Linked DNA regions of Homo sapiens. The protein of the gene in region 1 purifies or fractionates together with the protein of each later gene. This does not show direct contact. Each region holds a gene or a part of one and is shown on either strand. Other genes may lie near its edges. The genes, in order: ZNF776 and OPA1.

The links.
Region 2: the proteins of ZNF776 (region 1) and OPA1 purify together in Homo sapiens (affinity purification with mass spectrometry; one large-scale study listed by BioGRID and IntAct). This does not show direct contact.

Annotation. Positions count from the first base shown.
Region 1 is NC_000019.10:57,749,551-57,753,370, forward strand, and holds part of ZNF776 (zinc finger protein 776), read left to right. Parts: intron 1-1,234; coding exon 1,235-1,361; intron 1,362-3,740; coding exon 3,741-3,820. UniProt on the Homo sapiens protein: May be involved in transcriptional regulation.
Region 2 is NC_000003.12:193,638,208-193,642,027, forward strand, and holds part of OPA1 (dynamin-like GTPase OPA1, mitochondrial), read left to right. Parts: intron 1-3,820. UniProt on the Homo sapiens protein: Dynamin-related GTPase that is essential for normal mitochondrial morphology by mediating fusion of the mitochondrial inner membranes, regulating cristae morphology and maintaining respiratory chain function.

The DNA.
Region 1 (3,820 bases):
TGGAGGCCCAATATGATGTGTCACCTTGACATCTAGTGATATTGGTATGACCTCAAATGACCTGAGAACCAATTCCCTTCCCACTAGGCTCTTTTAGATAATAATCAGCATGGCCTAATAATCCTTTTATTAGGGAGACCAGGCAGAATTCCTGGTTATTATACTTTGTAGTGAGTTTCAATTTTATCCTTACCCACAGTGTTATTCAAACAAGCCAGTTGCATCCTCCTAAGGGATTCGGGGGTCATCACACCCTCTTCATTTTAAAAGCTTGCATATCATAGTTTCTGGTTATGCACTCTTATCCATAGTGCAACCCCTATGTGGTCCTTCATGATGAGGGATGTCCTCTTCTAGACTTTGAGTGTATTTGATTTTTAAACATATTTATAGCACCTGTCTAGTGTTTGATGTCATGTGTTTGGTCATTAATATAACTGTAAGGTGAAAATCTCACCCTTACTGGTAGAAGGAAGAAGAGGGTATAAACATACTTTAACTTGTGGGGAGGCAGAGGCCAATGTGGGAGGCAGTTTAGTGGGGGTGGCCATGGGCATGTGTCTGTGCAGTCTAAAGAATGATGTGTATTTTGGCCTAGCACAGTGGCTCATGCCTGTAATCCCAGCACATTGGGAGGCTGAGGTGGGTGAATCACTTGAGCTCAGGATTTCGAGACTAACCTGGGCAACATAGTGAAACCTTCTCTCTACCAAAAATACAAAAAAAAAAAAAAATTAGCCGGCACGGTGGCATGCACCTGTATCCCATCTACTCGGGAGGCTAAGGCCAGAGAATTACTCGAGCCCAGTAGACAGAGGTTGCAGAGAGCTGAGATTATGTCATTGCACTCCAGCCTGGGCAACAGGAGTGAAACCCTATCTCAAAAAAAAAAAAAGCAAAAAAAAGGAATGATGTGTATTTAGAGAAGGAGTATGTCTGATAGACTGAGGATGCTGCATTGGGATTTACATGACTTCATCTCTACCAGGGGCATTGGCTATCAGGAAGTTATGGACCGCTTTATATCAGCACCAAAACATAGAAATCTATTGTTTCACCCACTTCTTGTGGCTGATGGCTGTACACCATGACCAGTGAGCCCATGAGAAGATAGTGACACCAGTGGGCCTAGTTTCTCCTTGTAGTTTAGGACCTTGGGAGGAGGAAGGGCAAGGGTGGATAAGTGGATGAGCATATGGAGTGTTTGTGGTTTCATCTGTCATCATCACGGCAGGGCACTGTGACCTTTGAAGATGTGGCTGTGAACTTTTCCCAGGAGGAATGGAGTCTCCTTAGTGAGGCTCAGAGATGCCTTTATCATGACGTGATGCTGGAGAACCTGACACTTATATCTTCTCTAGGTAAGGCACTCACACTCTTCTCTATGACCTCAGCTATTGTCTGTCTGTCCCCATCTTTTTTCCCCATGGCAAGACTGTTTTCCTCACTTCAGGAGCCTGGGCACAGGTTCCTCTGTTAGTTCCCTGGGTAGGTTCTATGTGGTATGTAGGACTGAGGTGTGTGCACTGCCCTCTCTCTCCTTGAGCAGCCCCAACACCTGCTTTGCTGCAAGCTCCCAGAGAAGGAGCTTTACAGGCACCATAATGCATCCCACCTTGCTTGCCCTCTGGCTGTTGAGTAATTTTTCTAGATCAGAGACTGGTATGCACAGGTTCTACTTCCTTGCTCTAGGTGACATTTATTCATGACTGCCTGTGCTAGGAATTCCTCCCATCACTGATGTTCTCAATACTTACATGCACCATAGGTTGTTCTTGCAAGACCCTCCTTATAAATTATCTTGTTTGTTTTGTTTTGTTCTGTTTTGTTTTCAAAGTCTTAACTCTGTCACCCAGGCTGGAGTGCAGTGCTGCAGTCATAGCTCACTGTAGCCTCAATCTCCCAGGCTCAAGCAATCCTCCTTCCTCAGCCTCTAGAGTAACTCGGACTAGAGGCTTCTGCCATCACATCCCACTAATTTTTATTTTTATTTTTAATAGAGATGAGGTCTGGCTGTATTGCCCAGGCTGGTCTCTGACTCCCAACCTCACGTGATCCTCCCACCTCATCCTCCCAAAGTGCTGGGATTACAAGCATGAGCCAGTGTGCCCTGAGTATTTTTTGCTTTTTTGTTTTTTTTTTTTTCAGACAGGGTTTCACTGTCATCCAGGCTGCAGTCTACTGATGCAATCATGGTTCACTTCATTCTCAGCCTTCTGGGCTCAAGTAATCCTCCCACCTGACTCCTAAGTAGCTGGGACTACAGGAGCATGCCACCCTGCCCAACTAATTTTTGTTCATTTGTATTTTTGGTTTTGTTTTTTTTTTTTTTTTTTTTTTGAGACGGAGTCTTGCTCTGCCACCAGGCTGGAGTGCAGTGGCCCAATCTCGGCTCACTGCAACCTCCGCTTCCCAGGTTCACACCATTCTCCTGCCTCAGCCTCCCGAGTAGCTGGGACCACAGGCACATGCTGCCACACCTGGCTAATTTTTTTGTATTTTTAGTAGAGACGGGGTTTCACCGTGTTAGCCAGGATGGTCTCGATCTCCTGACCTTGTGATCCACCCGCCTCGGGCTCCCGGAGCTGGGATTACAGGCGTGAGCCACCGTGCCCGGCCTCATTTGTTTGTTTTGTAGAGATGGTGTCTCATTATGTTACCCAGGTTGGTCTTGAACTCCTAGGGTCAAGTAGTCCTTCCAGTTTGGCCTCCCACAGTGCTGGGATTATAGGTGTGAGCCACTGCACCTGGCCAAAAATTATCTTTGTAGTATTTAGTTTTCTTTCCTATGGGCTATCATGTGCTGATTTTTTCTGAACTGTTGGTTGGCTATTCTTCTCTCTTGTCTTTCTCTTATTCTTTATGTCATCCATGTCTCATGTAAATTCCATGTATATCTTTGCAGTGGGACTGAGAGTTCTCAGTGATCCAGAAGTTGCAGCTAAACCCAGGCTCAGCATGATGGGCCCAGAGGGAGGCCACCTCTGAGGAGTAACACCCTGGAGGAAGACATAACATTAGGGATTTAGGAAAGTCATGCTAGAAGCTCTCTGATTTCACAAGTATTTACCTGGCAACATGACGAGCCATATGCTGTTTCTGTCTTCCCCATTCTTGAGAGTTTCAGACTTCACCGTTCTATACCCTGTCACTTCTCCTCTGATGCCAGCCCAGGACTAATCTTCACATCTCTGGATCCCACCTGGACCCATTTTTCTCACATTTCCATCTGCAGTGGACTCCAATACTGGCATATCAATTTTGTATTAGGAAGTGTGTACACATTGCTAAGCCATACCTGACCAACAGCTGCTTTGTTGTACTCGTATTTTCTTGTGACACACAAACAAGTGTATCTTTGTTGTACTCGTATTTTCCTGTGACACACAAACAAGTGTATCTAACAGAGGTATTACTCCATGGAAATAATTGCAGAAACAGAATGTTGCCTTTAGGTTGAAGATAAGTCTTCTTCATATTACTGGGTTAGAATGATTACAGAATGTAGGGGGCCACATGATGTGAAGGAGCCAACAATACATGCACTACAGGAAGCAGAGGCAATTCCTTCCTGTGCAAACATCTAAAGGACCTTCATAAAGCATGTGGGTGCTATATAAAAGGATATGTCTAGGCCCAAGTAAATATAAGTACAACAAAGCAGCTGTTGATCAGGTATGGCTTAGTAATACTTCCCTTCGGAAGTACCTTGCATTTTACCAGCATTTTATTTCTTTTAGGTTGTTGGTATGGAGCAAAAGACGAGACACCTTCTAAGCAGACCCTTTCTATACAACAGGAGTCCCCACTCAGGACACAT
Region 2 (3,820 bases), on another chromosome or scaffold:
GTAGAAGGCACAGCCAGGAGGCCAGTGTGGCAGGAGCTGAGTGAGGGGAGAGTGGTAGGAGAGGATGACAGAGACCCAGTTGGGAGGCCTTTGGATTTTATTCTGAATAAGATAAGAGAGAAGTTAAGAGAATGAGAATATTGGAAGTGGAGTCAATGAATATAGATAATTTTCTAGTTTTATTGTGACAAAAGAGCAGAGAAATGAAGCAGTAGCAATTGAATATTGTTGAATTAAGGGAAGGTTTTTAACCCTTTTCCTGTTTAGAAAAAAAGTGCAGCTCAACACCAGTGCTCATTTAATTTTACGTAAACACACTCTCTGAAGCTGAAGCAAATCTGACTAATTTTCAATGTGAAAATAAAATATAAAAACTGTTCTTAGAGTTATTTCTAAACAGTACTAACATCAGAATCGTCCCAATCATCAGAATGTCTGTTTTTTAAAAGTCAGATTTATCAAATCAATCTTCGGCCAACAACTTTTTGAGAATGATGTAAACATCACACATAGGAATTCCGCATTTTCTAGGATTTGACATTTTCAGCTATTGAAAATTACTATATTTTGTAAATGGACGTACCGCTACTAAAAACAGAATGCTTGAAATAGAATGTCTTTTGTTTCCAAAGTCAGTACACTAGAGCTATGTGAAAATAATCATAAAAGTGAAGATATTTTATGGCAGAGTTATGTTGGGGCAAATGCTGCAGCTGCAAGCGGTGCTGGCAAATATTGTCGGAGCAAGTGGGAAAAGGATTAAAGATGTTTATATGCTGATTATAATGATCTAATAAAGGGGGGAAATGATGCAAGAGAGAGGGAAAATTGCAAGAGCAAAGTTACTGAGGTGAAGGAGATTGTGACTTGGTGTACTAGTCCATATCTGGGAGCACTGACAATTTCTCCAGGGTCACAGGAAGAAGGTATGGGGCTGCAGAGTCTTTCATTGAACAGATATTTACGGAATGCTTAATATGTACCAGTAGCATTCTAGGCAATATGTTGGTAAACAGCAACAACAAAGAAGAACCTTGCCTTAATGGAGGGTATGTTCTAGTAGAGGGAGACAGATAATAGATAATAAATATAATACATAATTGTATAGTAGGTTAGAAGGCAATAGTGTTGTACAACAAGAAAAAGCAGAACCAGGCAAGGAGAATGAGGGTGCCAGAGTATTCATAGATTGCATTGATAAGGTGGCATTTGAACCAAGATTTGCAGAAAGTGAGGGAGTAGTCCTGAGGATATCCTGTGTTCAGCAAGGAGAATAGCTGATGCAAAGCCTCTGAGGTGGTTGTGTGGCTGTCATGTTCAAGGAACAACAAAGAGGCCTGTGTGGTCAGGTCGGGGTGAAGAGCTAGCCATGGTCGGGGCAAATGATGACATTAGAGGAATAATGAAGAGCGGGGAGGAACAGATCAATAAGGCCTTATAGGCCATTGTACAGACTTCCGTTTTAAGTAAAATGGAAAGCCAGTGCAGGATTTCGAGCAAAGTAACAAAAGTGCCTTTTAAAAGGCTGCTCTTTTGAAAATAGTTGTAGCCAAGATGTAGAACCAGGGAGTCTAGGCTACTGGAGTATCCAGGTGATACTTGGGCTAGGGAAGTAGCAGTGAAACTGGTAAGAAATGGATAGATTATAAATGTGTTTTGAAAGTAGAATTAACAGGATTTCTTGACAGGTTTGATATGGAGAGGGGAGAGAAGAAAAGCAATGGGGAGAGAGAGAGAGAGTGTCAATCATCAATGATGCCTCCAGGGTCTTTAGCCTGAACAAATTGAAGGATGTAGTTTGCATGGAAGTCTGTCAGTGGATCAGGTTTGGGGGAAGAAGATCAGGAGTTCAGTTTTGGACTTGCTGAGTGGTGATAACAAGCAGTTGGGTATACAAGTTTAGACAGAGGTGTGGGCCAGAGACATACATTTAGGAGTCATGATCAACTATCTAAAAGTAGTATTTAAAGTCATGATCTTACTGGAGAAGATCTTCAAGGGAGTGAGTAGAGATAGAGAAAACACAGAAGCAAGCAGTATATTCTGGGCACTCTGAACATTAAGATGTTGAGGGAAGAGAAAATAACAAAGGAATGTGTGAAGGCCCAACCAGTATAGTAAGAGGGAAAGCAGAGCAGGACAGTGTGCGCAAAGTCAGGTAAACAAAAAGAAAACATGGAGGAGGAGGGAGTGCTCAGTGAGGTCACATGCTGCTGATCCATCAAGGAAGGTGAACATAGAAACCAGTCGTTGAGTTCACCAGTGGAGGCAAGAAAGGGGAACGTGTGGAAGTTTCCTTCTGATTGCTTCCGCTTACTCAGTGAAATACTAAGCCAGATGATCAGCTGTTAATTAGAAAGGAGAAGAGATTAAAGACTGAGGCAGGAAGAAAAAGTGAAGTCTGTTAACAGATCGTGGTGACTCTAGGAGTGAATCAGTGGAGAAAGTCAAGTGATATTAGGATTACTGAGGTGGACTGAAGTCCCTTTAAGTTCTGTGGACATAAATTTTAAATGAATCATTATGATTGTGTTTTGTTTTTTTCATGTTTAGCTGGTGGGGGGTAGGTGTAGAATAATTGGAAGATTGAAATTACCAAGAATTATGGCAAGAATAGTGGGAGAAAGACAGTGAGGCTGATGCTGAAATCTTCAAGAAATGAAATCTGTTTACAAGTGCAACAGGGTATGGGCAGCCTAGTGTGATTCATCTAGATTGCACTTTTGTGGGTCTAGCTATGGATTGAATCGTGTTATGTGTTACTAGTTCTGTGTGTGGTACTGTGTGACTGTACCAGACTTTACATATCCATTTTACTACCGATGGGAATTTGGGGTACATCTAACCTAGAGAAAAAAACAAAATGAACCTCAGACTACACCTCATATCCTGTTCAATAATCAGTTGTAAAAACATGGGAGAGAAACCTACCTTTTACATTGTTACTAGCATCCTAATTGTAGAAGCTGTGGATGATACTTCAAGAAGAAATTAATTTTGTTTTGGCAGGCAGGGTGTGGACAGGTTTCCTTGAAACAGATGAGGCTGGTCTCTTTCCGGTTTGTCATTAGTCCCTTAGTGTTTACTAGAGCTTCTCCTTGACCAACCCTGAATTCCAGTTTTTTGTTTCCCTAGAGCAGTGAAAGTGCCAAAACCCCAGCTTAGCATTTTAACCTCCTTAGCAGCTTCTTTCTGCTTGGTTTCCTAAAATGTGAATGCCGTGAAAGGAAATTGTGCGCAGGATGTAGGGTTTTGTTTTGTTTTGGAGGTTTATTTCTGCAGTTCATTTTTCTTTGGGATTGTGGCACCTTAAGACGTGACTACTTAATAACTCGGAATTCCAATCTTGTCTACTCAACCCAGTGAAACTGCTACACATTTTAAGTTTTTCTCTTGGGCCTTTGCCCTGTGCTACAAATCAGCAAATCCTCTGATGGAAAATAGCTAAACAGCTTTCCAACAGCTGTTTATTGTTTTTAAATTTAGCCTGTTTAGCTAATCTCAGTAGAAGGAATTGTATTTTTAAAGTAAAATAACTATAGAGAAGCTAGAAAGGTGTCAATTAGGCATTTAGAAGTTCTTGTGAAACCACTGACTGTTAATATACATTGCTATAACATTTCTTGGCTGGGTGCAGTGGCTCATGCCTGTAATCCCAGCACTTTGGGAGGCTGAGGAGGGCGGATCACCTGAGGTCAAGAGTTCAAGACCAGCCTGGCCAACATGGCGAAACCCTGTCTCTACTAAAAGTACAAAAAACTTGCCAGGTGTGGTGGCGGGCATCTGTAATCCCAGCTACTCGGGAGGCTGAGGCAGGAGA